2 separate regions of the Homo sapiens genome follow, and region 2 is linked to region 1. The links come from fine-mapping of genetic effects on gene expression. A gene starts in region 1. The other region holds a variant in brackets. All regions are shown on one strand. Distances are from middle to middle. Region 1 holds the start of NOL6 (nucleolar protein 6). Region 2 has its middle 14 kb from the start of ANKRD18B.

The links.
Region 2: its variant is fine-mapped to the expression of NOL6 in gastroesophageal junction (GTEx, PIP 0.95). The same link has a PIP of 0.9 or more in esophagus muscle.

The regions. Positions count from the first base shown.
Region 1 is chr9:33,471,328-33,476,712 of GRCh38, reverse strand. It overlaps NOL6 (nucleolar protein 6), which reads left to right and starts at 2,789. Exons shown (of 26, transcript NM_022917.5): 1 at 2,789-2,924; 2 at 4,301-4,507; 3 at 4,593-4,709. The coding sequence starts at 2,871. It overlaps LOC107987061 (a long non-coding RNA gene), which reads right to left and starts at 2,573. Exons shown (of 3, transcript XR_001746648.3): 1 at 2,516-2,573. RefSeq lists an enhancer at 2,838-3,177.
Region 2 is chr9:33,507,943-33,513,327 of GRCh38, reverse strand. It overlaps the pseudogene SUGT1P1 and the pseudogene VN1R47P. Among named protein-coding and RNA genes, the nearest start is that of ANKRD18B, 14 kb to the left of the region's middle. The variant C/G (reference allele first, on the strand shown) is at 2,239.

The sequences.
Region 1 (5,385 bases):
CACAGAAATACAGAAATTAGCCAGGCATGGTGGTGCGCGTGTGTAGTCTCAATTACTCAGGAGGCTGAGGTGTGATTCCACCACTGTATTCTAGCCTAGGCAACAGAGCGAGAACTTGCCCCTCTTCTCCCACAAAAAAGATGGAATAGCTGGGCAAGGTGGCTCACCCCTGTAATCCCAGCACTTTTGGAGGCTGAGGTGAGCGGATCACTTGAGGTCAGGAGTTTGAGACCAGCCTAGCCAACATGGTGAAACCTTGTCTTTACTAAAAATACAAAAATTAGCCGGGTGTGGTGGCATGTGCCTGTAGTCCCAGCTACTCTACTAGGGAGGCTGAGGCAAGAGAATCGCTTGAATCTGGGAGGCGGAGGTTGCAGTGATCTAAGATTGCACCTCTGCACTCCAGCCTGGGTGACAGAGCAAGACTCTGTCGCAAAAAAAAAAAAATAAAATAAAATAAAAAGAAGGAATAGCAAGTGAAGGGCCATATTGATCATGACTTTATGGAAGTTGAAGTTTGTGTTTAGTTTTAAGTACAATTGGAAGACACTGATGAGTTTTTAAAAGGAAGTGACATGATAGAATTTCTATTTTAGAAAACTAATTCTGGCAGCTGTGTGGAAAATGAATTGAAAATGGACATACCGCTCTTCTGAAACTTCCTTAAAAAGCTATCGCATAGCCGGGCGCGGTGGCTCACGCCTGTAATCCTAGCACTTTCAGAGGCCAAGGCGGGTGGATCATGAGGTCAGGAGATCAAGACCATCCTGGCTAACACGGTGAAACCCCGTCTCTACTAAAAAATACAAAAAATTAGCCGGGCGTGGTGGCGGGCGCCTGTAGTCCCAGCTACTTGGCAGGCTGAGGCAGGAGAATCACTTGAACCCGGGAGGTGGAGCTTGCAGTGAGCCGAGATCGTGCCACTGCACTCCGGCCTGGGCGACAGAGTGAGACTCTGTCTCAAAAAATAAATAAATAAATAAATAATAAATAATAAAAAAGCTATTGTATAAACTGACCTGCACTGTTTGAAGTCAGAATAGTGATTGTTGGGGGCAGAGTTACTAGAGGGCAGCATGAGGGGAGATTCTGAAGGTGCAGGAAATGTTCTGCTTATTTTCTGGGAGCTGACTATATGAGTATGTTTGGTTTGTTAGTATTCAAGCTTTACACTTGGGATATGTACATTTTTCCTTATGTATATTGTACTTCAATACAAATTTTTAGACTGGGCACGGTGGCTCACCCCTGTAATCCCAGCATTTTGGGAGACTGAGGAGGGCAGATCACTTGAGGCCAGAGTTTGAGATCAGGCTGGCCATCATGGTGAAACTCTGTCTCTACTAAAAATACAAAAATTGGCCTGGTGTGTTGGCGCATGCCTGTAATCCCAGCTACTTGGGAAGCTGAGCCACAATAATCAATTGAACCAGGAGGTGGATGTTGCAGTAAGCTGAGATCGACCCACTGCACTCTAGCCTGGGCAACAGAGGGACACTCACTCTCTCTCAAAAAAAAAAAAAAAAAAAAAAAAAAAAAATATATATATATATATATATATATATATATATATATATATTATATGGTAATAGTTGAATTTAGATGATCCTGCATTAGGAAATAAAATGAAACATATAACGGTTATTACTGGAATAACTGACAAAATTTAAAGATGGAATTTGTATACTAGTATTGAATCACGATTAAATTTCCTTAATTTCATAATCGGGCTGTGCTTACATAAGAGGTAGTCCTTGATCTTAGTAGATACATACCTAAGTATTTAGGGAGATGTGTGATTGGTTTTCAAATGGTTTTGCAAAATAATATGTAAATACATAGGTAAAGATAAACTTGGCAAAATAGTAACACTAAGTGAATCTAGGTGAAGAGTATATGCGCATTCATTATATTATTCTTGCAACATTTGTTTTAAATTTTTAATAGTTTAAAAATAGGCCGGGAGCAGTGGCTCAGGCCTGTAATCCCAGCATTTCGGGAGGCCAAGGTGGGCGGGTCACTGGCAGTCAGGAGTTTGAGACCAGCCTAGGCAACATGAGGAAACCCCATCTCTAGTGAAAATACAAAAATTAGACGGGTGTGATGGTACCTGCCTGTAATCCCAGCTCCTCAGGAGGCTGAGGCACGAGAATCGCTTGAGCCTGGGAGAGGGAGGATGCAGGGAGCTGAGATCGTGCCACTGCACTCCAGCCTGGGCGACAGAGCAAGACTACTCCAAAAATAAATAAATAAATAAATAAATAAATAAATAAATAAATAAATAAAAATAACTAAATTACTTGAAATTGTAATAAGCTAAGTAATAAGTAAAAACTGGAGAAAAGTCATAACAATAATTCGGGAACAAGATGATGTGACGGGCTAAACCTGGCAGTGAAGACACAGAAAAATGAATAAATTCAAGGTATGTTTTGGAGGTAGAACTGACAAGATTTGTTAACTGATAAGGTGTAGCAAATAAAGAAAAAGGGAGGAATAACTGCTGTAAACAAACCTGACCAAAAGGAACAAACTAGCTCCGCCCTTCCCGATTGCAGCCACGCGAAGGAAGTGAGGAAAAGAAAGCAAAGGCCTAGCTACGGGCAGGCTTCCGTTCTAGCGTCGCGAAGAGGCCGTAAAGCACAGAAACCCGTTTGTCCCCTCCCCTAATGGGCGGGCCTTGAGACTGCCCGGCCAATGGCAAGCGAGTAATCGACTGATAATCCAATAGCTCTGGAGTGGGTGGAGTCCTGAGGAATTGGGGTGGGCTGGACTTGGGCCTGGAGTTAGGCATTTCCGCCCACGTGGGAAGCTATGAGGTATAGACCCGGCTAGAATCTGAAGTGCGGGAGAGTGCTGGACCCTGAGTGATGGGGCCGGCGCCAGCTGGAGAGCAGCTTCGCGGAGCGACTGGAGAGCCAGAGGTGGGTTGAGCCATCGGGGAGGAACAGAGGCTCAATGTGCGCTCCCTTGGCTGCAGGGCCCGAGATGGCGTGATCTGACAGCTTGCGGGTGAAAGCCATGCCGGCGGCCCATTCTGGAGGATGTTTCCAGCCAGTGGCACTGAGACAGGGCTTGCTAGGGGTGATGGAACCTGGCAGTATTTGGTTAGAAGCAGTGAAGCCGGTAGAGCCTCTGCTCTCTTCTGGAGCTCTGCACCTCAAAGTTGAAGAGACCCACACTTGGGTCGTTTCTTTTATTTGGTGGTCCTTGACGATAAGCGGGATCTTCCTCCACAGAATTTGTGTCCAGTTCTGTGCTCCCCGCTGTAGCGGAGGGCATACGGTGCCTCTCCTGGAGCGCTCCAGTAAGGCTCTCTGGGATGAGAGGCATCGTGGAGCGGATGGGCCCACGGCTGTAGGGGAAAAGGTTTGGGATCCTGCACGCTTGCCTTTGAAGCCTGCTCATAGTACGGGTGTACCAGTTGTGGAACCTCGAGTGAATAGTGGGACTTCAAGTGTCTTCAAGAATTATTTTGAGGATTTAATGACTTGCTAAATGTGTCCTCTGGGGTCCAGTCGGTTCTAGCTCCTTCCATCAGTGAGTATTTAGTGTAAACTGAGGCAGTCAGGTCTTCCTAGAGGAGGTGGAACCTGGCAGGATTTGGTTGGAGCGAGAATGGGAAAGACATTTGAGAAGTCCCAGGCCTATATCAGCAGAAGAGGAAACTTCCTGAAAATACAAGGGGCCTGGGCATTACTTAGGGCAGGGCTCAGTCAGCTTCTTTTTTTTTTTTTTTTTTTTGACAGTCTTGCTCTGTTGCCCAGGCTAGAATGCAATGGCACGATCTCGGCTCACTTCAGCCTCTGCCTCCTGGGTTCAAGTGATTTTCCTGCCTCAGTCTCCCGCGTAGCTGAGATTACAGGCATGTGCCACCACACCTGGCTAATTTTTGTATTTTTAATAGAGACGGAGTTTCCCCATGTTGGCCAGGCTGATTTCGAACTCCTGACTTCAGCTGATCCGCCCAGCTCCACCTCCCAAACTGCTGGGATTACAGGCGTCAGCCACCGTGTCCAGCCTGGGCCCAGTCAGCTTCTATCACTACCAATTCCAAACAGAGCTCCATGCTTGTGGTGTCAGGTAGACAGGAGAGCTCTTAACTCAAGGAATTTTCGGCTCAGCGCTCAGTGATGTTCATCCAAGTAACGATTCTCCTGAGTTTTACAAAATCTGACTCCTACTCAAAAGAGGGACAGAGCAGGTGAAGCTTTTACCCACAACCTATCATGGTGGCACTTTAGGCAGCAGATGCTAGATACCTATTACCTCAAAATGGCTTCTCCCTCACTGGCCACAGGTGATGGAACCAGCCCTGGAAGGCACAGGCAAAGAGGGGAAGAAAGCATCCTCCAGGAAGCGTACATTGGCTGAACCTCCAGCGAAGGGCCTCCTGCAGCCAGTGAAGCTCAGCAGGGCAGAACTGTACAAGGAGCCTACCAATGAGGAGCTTAATCGCCTTCGGGAGACTGAGATCTTGTTCCACTCCAGCTTGCTTCGTTTACAGGTACTGTTGAGTGTCTGCAGCTTTTGTTCGAGGTGTGTACCTGGGACCCTGAGGCTGATGGACTGTCTTCTACCCTCTCTTACAGGTAGAGGAGCTACTAAAGGAAGTAAGGCTGTCAGAGAAGAAGAAGGATCGGATTGATGCCTTCCTACGGGAGGTCAACCAGCGGGTTGTGAGGGTGCCCTCAGTCCCTGAGACAGAGGTAAGCAAGTGGCCTGGGGAACTGGGAAGCCCAAGAGAGACCTCCAGTGGGGGTATATCAAACAGGGGCCTTGCTGTTACTCTGTTTAAGGGTTGGGGTGCAGGGAGCTCATTCTCACAGCAAGGAAGCTTAGCTGGGAGCGTGGTCATTTGTGTATTCATTCAGCAAGTACTTCCATGCCTTGCAGTATTTGTGTTCTTAGGATATATCAGTAAATAATAGCCTATGCTGTAATGCTGAGGTTATAGTTAATAGATAAGCATAACAGGTAAACTCTATGGCAATGTTAGAATGTGGTAAACACTGGAAAAAGGAAAAAGTAGGACGAGCAATGTAAGGGGATTGGGAGTATTAGAGGATGGGAGTGGTTTACAAGTTTAAAGGGGGTGTTCACAAAGTAGGCCTTATTGAAGTGACATTTGTGTAAAGACTTGAAGTAGGTGAGTCAGCTATATAGATATCTAAGGGAATAAAAGCATTCCAGGAAGGGGGAACAGCCAGTACAAAGGCACAAAGGCAGGAATGTTCCAGTTACATTCCTTGGAATGAATGAGGAATACAGAAGGAGATGAGTTCAGAAAGGTGATGGGGAAAAGTAGCATATCATGCAGGGCATTGTGTCCCGAAGTAGGGACTTTGGCTGTTGCTCTGGGTGAGATGGGGAGCCACTGCTGGA
Region 2 (5,385 bases), 37 kb before region 1:
TTGGTTGTATATAATTATTCTTCTAAGATTATGCTAAGATCAGCACATCTATATTTTACTTGGATCTCTGATCACTATAGATGATATTTGCCTATAAAACAAGCATTGGTGTTTTCAATCACAATCAAAAAGAAAAAATTCAAAACGATTCTTTTAAAAACTCACAAGAGATACAAAAATATTTTTTAAATACATGGATTGTCTTAAAAATTATTTCTCTCTGTTGCTATGACAGCATAGTGGTCAAGTCCATTGTCAGCTTCTGACACTGCCTCTTACAAGGAGGTGACTTTGGAAATGTCATTCAGCCTTCCTGTGCCCGAAATCACCTCACCTGTCAAATGGGAACAATAAAGCACTTCAAAGAATTGTTGTAAAAGTTCTATGTAAAACACTGTTACAGCACTCTTATGCTGGGAATATATATCTATACACACATATATTTTTATAGCGAAACTCTCAGGAAGAGGAAAATGAAGTTTAATAGGAAATTAATGGCTTGAAAACAATGGTACATGGAAAAGAGTGGCTTTCAGTTGCCATAGTACAACAGGCCTCTTGTTTTCACGCCAGATCCTCTCACTCTGAATAGGATGATCAGTCATTGAAAAAAGAAAAATGGCCTCCAGGGATGTGGCAATAGGAATGATCTTCTTATCTCAGACCACAGTAGGATTCCTGGGCAATTGCTTTGTTCTTCACCATTATAGTTATTTATTTCACCAGATGCACATTAAGGTCCACAGATCTGATTCTGCAGCACCTGACTGTAGCCAACTCCTTGGTCATTCTCTCTAAAAAATGCTCCTATCCTTGTCAATGCTTGGTATTGGAAATCCTTTTAATTTAAGTCATTCTGGTGGTAGTTTTATTATCTCATTATAATTTCAATGTCCACGATACAGCTATTTTTTTTTTTTTTTTGAGACAGAGTCTGACTCTGTTGCCCAGGCTGGAGTGCAGTGGTGCCATCTCGCTCACTGCAACCTCTGCCTCCCAGGTTCAAGTGTTTCCTGTGCCTTGGCCTCCTTAGTAGCTGGGATTATAGGTGTGCACCACCAAGCCCAGGTAATTTTTGTATTTTTAGTAGAGATGGGGTTTTGTCATGTTGCCCAGGCTGGTCTCCAACTCCTGGCCTCAAGGGATCCACCCGCCTCGACCTCCCAAAGTGTTGAGATTACAGGCATGAGCCACTGTGCTCAGCCATGACATAGCTATTAATATAGAACTTTTCATGTGGGCCTATAGGTCAATCTAGGAATTTGCCCTTTCAGAGGCTATTCATATTTATATGCATATTGGTGCATGGCAGGGGTTGGTGTATACACCTTGGTGTATGGCTGAGCCATAAATGGAGCATACCTGAGAATAACCCTATTCTAAGTGTGTTTGGAGTCCCAGGCTAAGGAATCCAGGAGTAGCCAACACTGAGATTCACTACTTACCTATGAAGGACAGCCATACCCCTGCCCCATCCCTTGGAACACAGCCTGTACAGGTGATCAAGGCCCTTTATTTTGGGTTAAATGGAGACTGCTAGAAGGAGGGTTCTAAGTGAAAATGCGATATGCTATATGGACTACATGCTTTTTTTTTTTTATACAAACGGTAGCGTTTCTCCAGGCCAGCCCACCACCACTGGACCACCCCTGTATGTAACTCCTGAATAAACGTTATGTTTCCTTCACTGGTTCTGCCTCTCCTATAGTGTCATCCCAATCGGAATCAATGGGGATCCGGAAGGACAACCGGCCATTTAGATAACATTTGAAAATTAACCAATGTAATTGGTCACATTGTAACATTATTATTAAAATATTATTTTAAAATTATTATTATATAACAGTAACATATTATTATTAAAAATACATATGAACATTTCAATAAAGGTAGAAAAAGCACTTGATATTGAATGCTTTCCTCTTGATTTTACAACCAAGACAAGGAAGTCCATTATCACTATTTCTATTCAATAGTGGACATACTAGCCAGCAACAAAACTAAAAGGTATAAAGATTACAGGAAAGTTAAACCATCTCTATTCACAGACTGCAAGATTGTAATCACATAAATTCCAAAAGACTCTACAGACTCTACAGTCCCACGGCAGCCCCTTCCTCCGCGCCGCGGCGGCGCCTCCGGCCCACGTCACGCTCGCGCCATTGTTTCCCAGCCGCTGCTCGCTGGGACCCCGCCAGCCCTCGAGCGCGGCCATTCGCCGCGTTCTGCCCTCTCCCC[C/G]CTTTCCTCACGCTGGTGGTGGCCCTTTCCTCAGTCCTGCTGATGTCCTCCAGCTGATTCCAGGCTGTTCCCGGCCACCCCTGAGGCCGTCCTTTCGCTTCTTGTAAAAGCCTCCCCGCCTCCTGAGCTCCCTCGGTCGCCTCCCGAGAAGCCAACGGGCCTCTCTGGTGGAGCGTTAGGTTGACAGCGTTTTAGCAGGACCGCGAGAAACCGGGGAGATCCTCTTACGAGGAAAAACTCCAAGATTACATCCCTGTTATCTTTCCTCCAAGTAGTTTCTGATCATAAGTTATTTGTTTAAAAATGATGTTTTAATTAGAATTTATTTGATGGCTTTTAAAAAACTTTTACTGACACTCAACATGTTTGTTTTTGTAGGAGCTGACTAAGGCTTTGGAACAGAAACCAGATGATGCACATATATTATCGTCAAAGAGCTTATTGTCACATTCTTCTTGGGAATTACTGTGGTAATTTTTCTTATAAAGTATATTGCCCCTTTTTAATAAGTTACTTATACATTTTACCCATGACCAATTAATCAAATAAAATAAAGGTTGTCTTTGAGGATTTTTGAGTTGGTCTTTCATACAAGGTAAAGTAGCTCAAGTGTGACAGACATGTTGAGCAACACCTATTTAAATTTTATGGATGTCTCTTTTTTCGTTCAGTGGGTGGATAATGTATATAGGTTTCATTCGTAGTTATTGAGTAGGCTGATAAAGAATAGTATCACATTTACTGTTTAACAGAGTATTAAAATGACATGCTCTTCTTTGTATTTTTTTATAAAAAAGAATGTGGCATGGTGGCTCACGCCTGTAATCCCAGCACTTTGGGAGGCCAAAGCGGGAGGATCACATGAGCCCAAGAGTTCGAGTCTAGCCTGGACAACATAGCAAGACCCTATCTATATTAAAAAAATAATGTATTCCTGTACTGTGTAACTTTAAAAATTATTCTGATGAAGAATCTGGATAGGGAAAAACTGAATATCTTTTTTTTTTTAGATGGAGTTTTGCTCTTATTGCCTAGGCTGGAGTGCAGTGGCACAATCTCATCTCACTGCAGCCTCTGCCTCCTAGGTTCAAGTGATTCTCCTGCTTCAGCCTCCCAGGTAGCTGGGACTACAGGTGTATGCCACTATGCCTGGCTAATTTTGTATTTTTAGCAGAGAGGGGGTTTCACCATGTTGGCCAGGCTGGTCTCAAACTCCTGACCACAGGTGATCCACCCACCTCAGCCTCTCAGAGTGCTGGGATTACAGGCGGGAGCCACTGCACCCCGCCAAATTACATAAGTGATGCTAATGAGAAAAGGAGATGAATTTTGTCACACAGCTTTATTCACTGACCGAAGAGCTTTAAGAAGAAAGCTAAATGTTAAGCCAAAAGGAAGGTACAAGAGTAATATTTATTTGAATTCTGTGTTGGATTAGCTTTTCCTAATTTAAAACCATTTGGCGTTTCTATTAACTCGAAAACTTGGAAATCTAAAACTGATCAGTATTCTGTGTGTGTTTGCTAGAATCTGTAAATAACTGACAAAAAACATCTTTTTCTTTCTTTCTTTTTTTTTTTTTGAGACGGAGTCTCACTCTGTTGCCCAGGCTGGAGTACAGTGGCGCAGTCTTGGCTCACTGCAACCTCTGCCTCCCAGGTTCAAGCGATTCTCCTGCCTCAGCCTCCTGAGTAGCTAGGACTACAGGCGCGTGCCACTGCATCCGGCTAATTTTTAATTTTTTTTTTCATAGAGACGGGGTTTCACTGTGTTAGCCAGGCTGGTCTCGATTTCTTGACCTCGTGATCCACCTGCCTCGGCCTCCCAAAGTGCTGGGATTACACGCGTGAGCCGCCATGCCCAGCCAGAAACGCATCTTTTTCTACATAGTTGCTGTTGCTGATGCAAAGAAGTCTCGCGAATTCAATCCAAATAATTCCACTGCTGTGCTGAGAAAAGGGTATGCAATAGCTACTCTTTTTGTTGAGCTTGGACTGTAAATAGGAGATGTGTAATTTGTTGAATGAGTTCAGTGTAAGCTTTATAAGTAGTAAAATTCTGTATTTATAGCAGAGATATGATTCAATTTTAAATATGAAGTTATAGTTCTATTATTTTGTTAACCATAGTATGTGATGGAGATCTATACTTAATATATTTAAAAATAGCGATGATTGAAATAACTGCAAGGTATAGATGAAACTGATGGATTTCACATTCTTTTTTTATTTAAAATTTGGAATTTACCATATTTAACTGACTAGAGGACATCCTATTCTTCAACCAAGCTGAATGGGCTACGCTTAATGGTGTGAAAGCTCTGTATCTATGTGCTTTATATCCCAACTTGTTTCTGTTGATAAGTGTAACTTTATTCTTTAAGTAAGAAACTGCTTTAATTCCTTTGTATGTATTTTGGAATAAGCAGGTATGTACAATTAAAGTGAAATTCCTTCTGAAGTAAGTTCTAAAATTGAATTTTACTGGAAATTGTACTAGATGTTAACAGTATTTTAGAAAGTCTCTTGGCTTACTAACATATACTTAAAAATAAATTTTTTCTTTCAACAATAGAAAATACTAAGATGTTTTCATTTAGAAAGAAGGCTATTTTCCAGATCTTGTATGTGTGTTAATTTGTTTTAAATATGTTCATGCAGGATATGTGAATACCATTTAAAAAACTATGCTGCTGCTCTAGAAACTTTTATAGGAGGACAAAAATTAGTAAGTATTAAATTATGGTTTTATAAACTTACCTATTTCTGTCTTAAATACCAAAGCTGAATTTTGTTAATGTTAATCTCAAGTTAATTACAGAAACCCAATACCTGTTTTTCTCACCGTAATTACATTTCATATTGATCGCAGATATGAGATCACTTAAAATTGGTTAAATTAGCCTTTTAGCATTTAAACCACAGATAAACTTACCATTAGAAGTAAAAAACTATATGGAAACACTTAACATGCTCTCTCTACTTAGTCTGGCTTTGTTTTTTTCTTTTCTTTATTTTATTTTATTTTTTTTTTTGAGACAGTCTCGCACTGTCACCCAGGCTGGAGTGCAGTGGCGTGATCTTGGCTCACTGCAACCTCCGCCTCCTGGGTTCAAGTGATTCTCCTGCCTCAGCCTCCCGAGTGGCT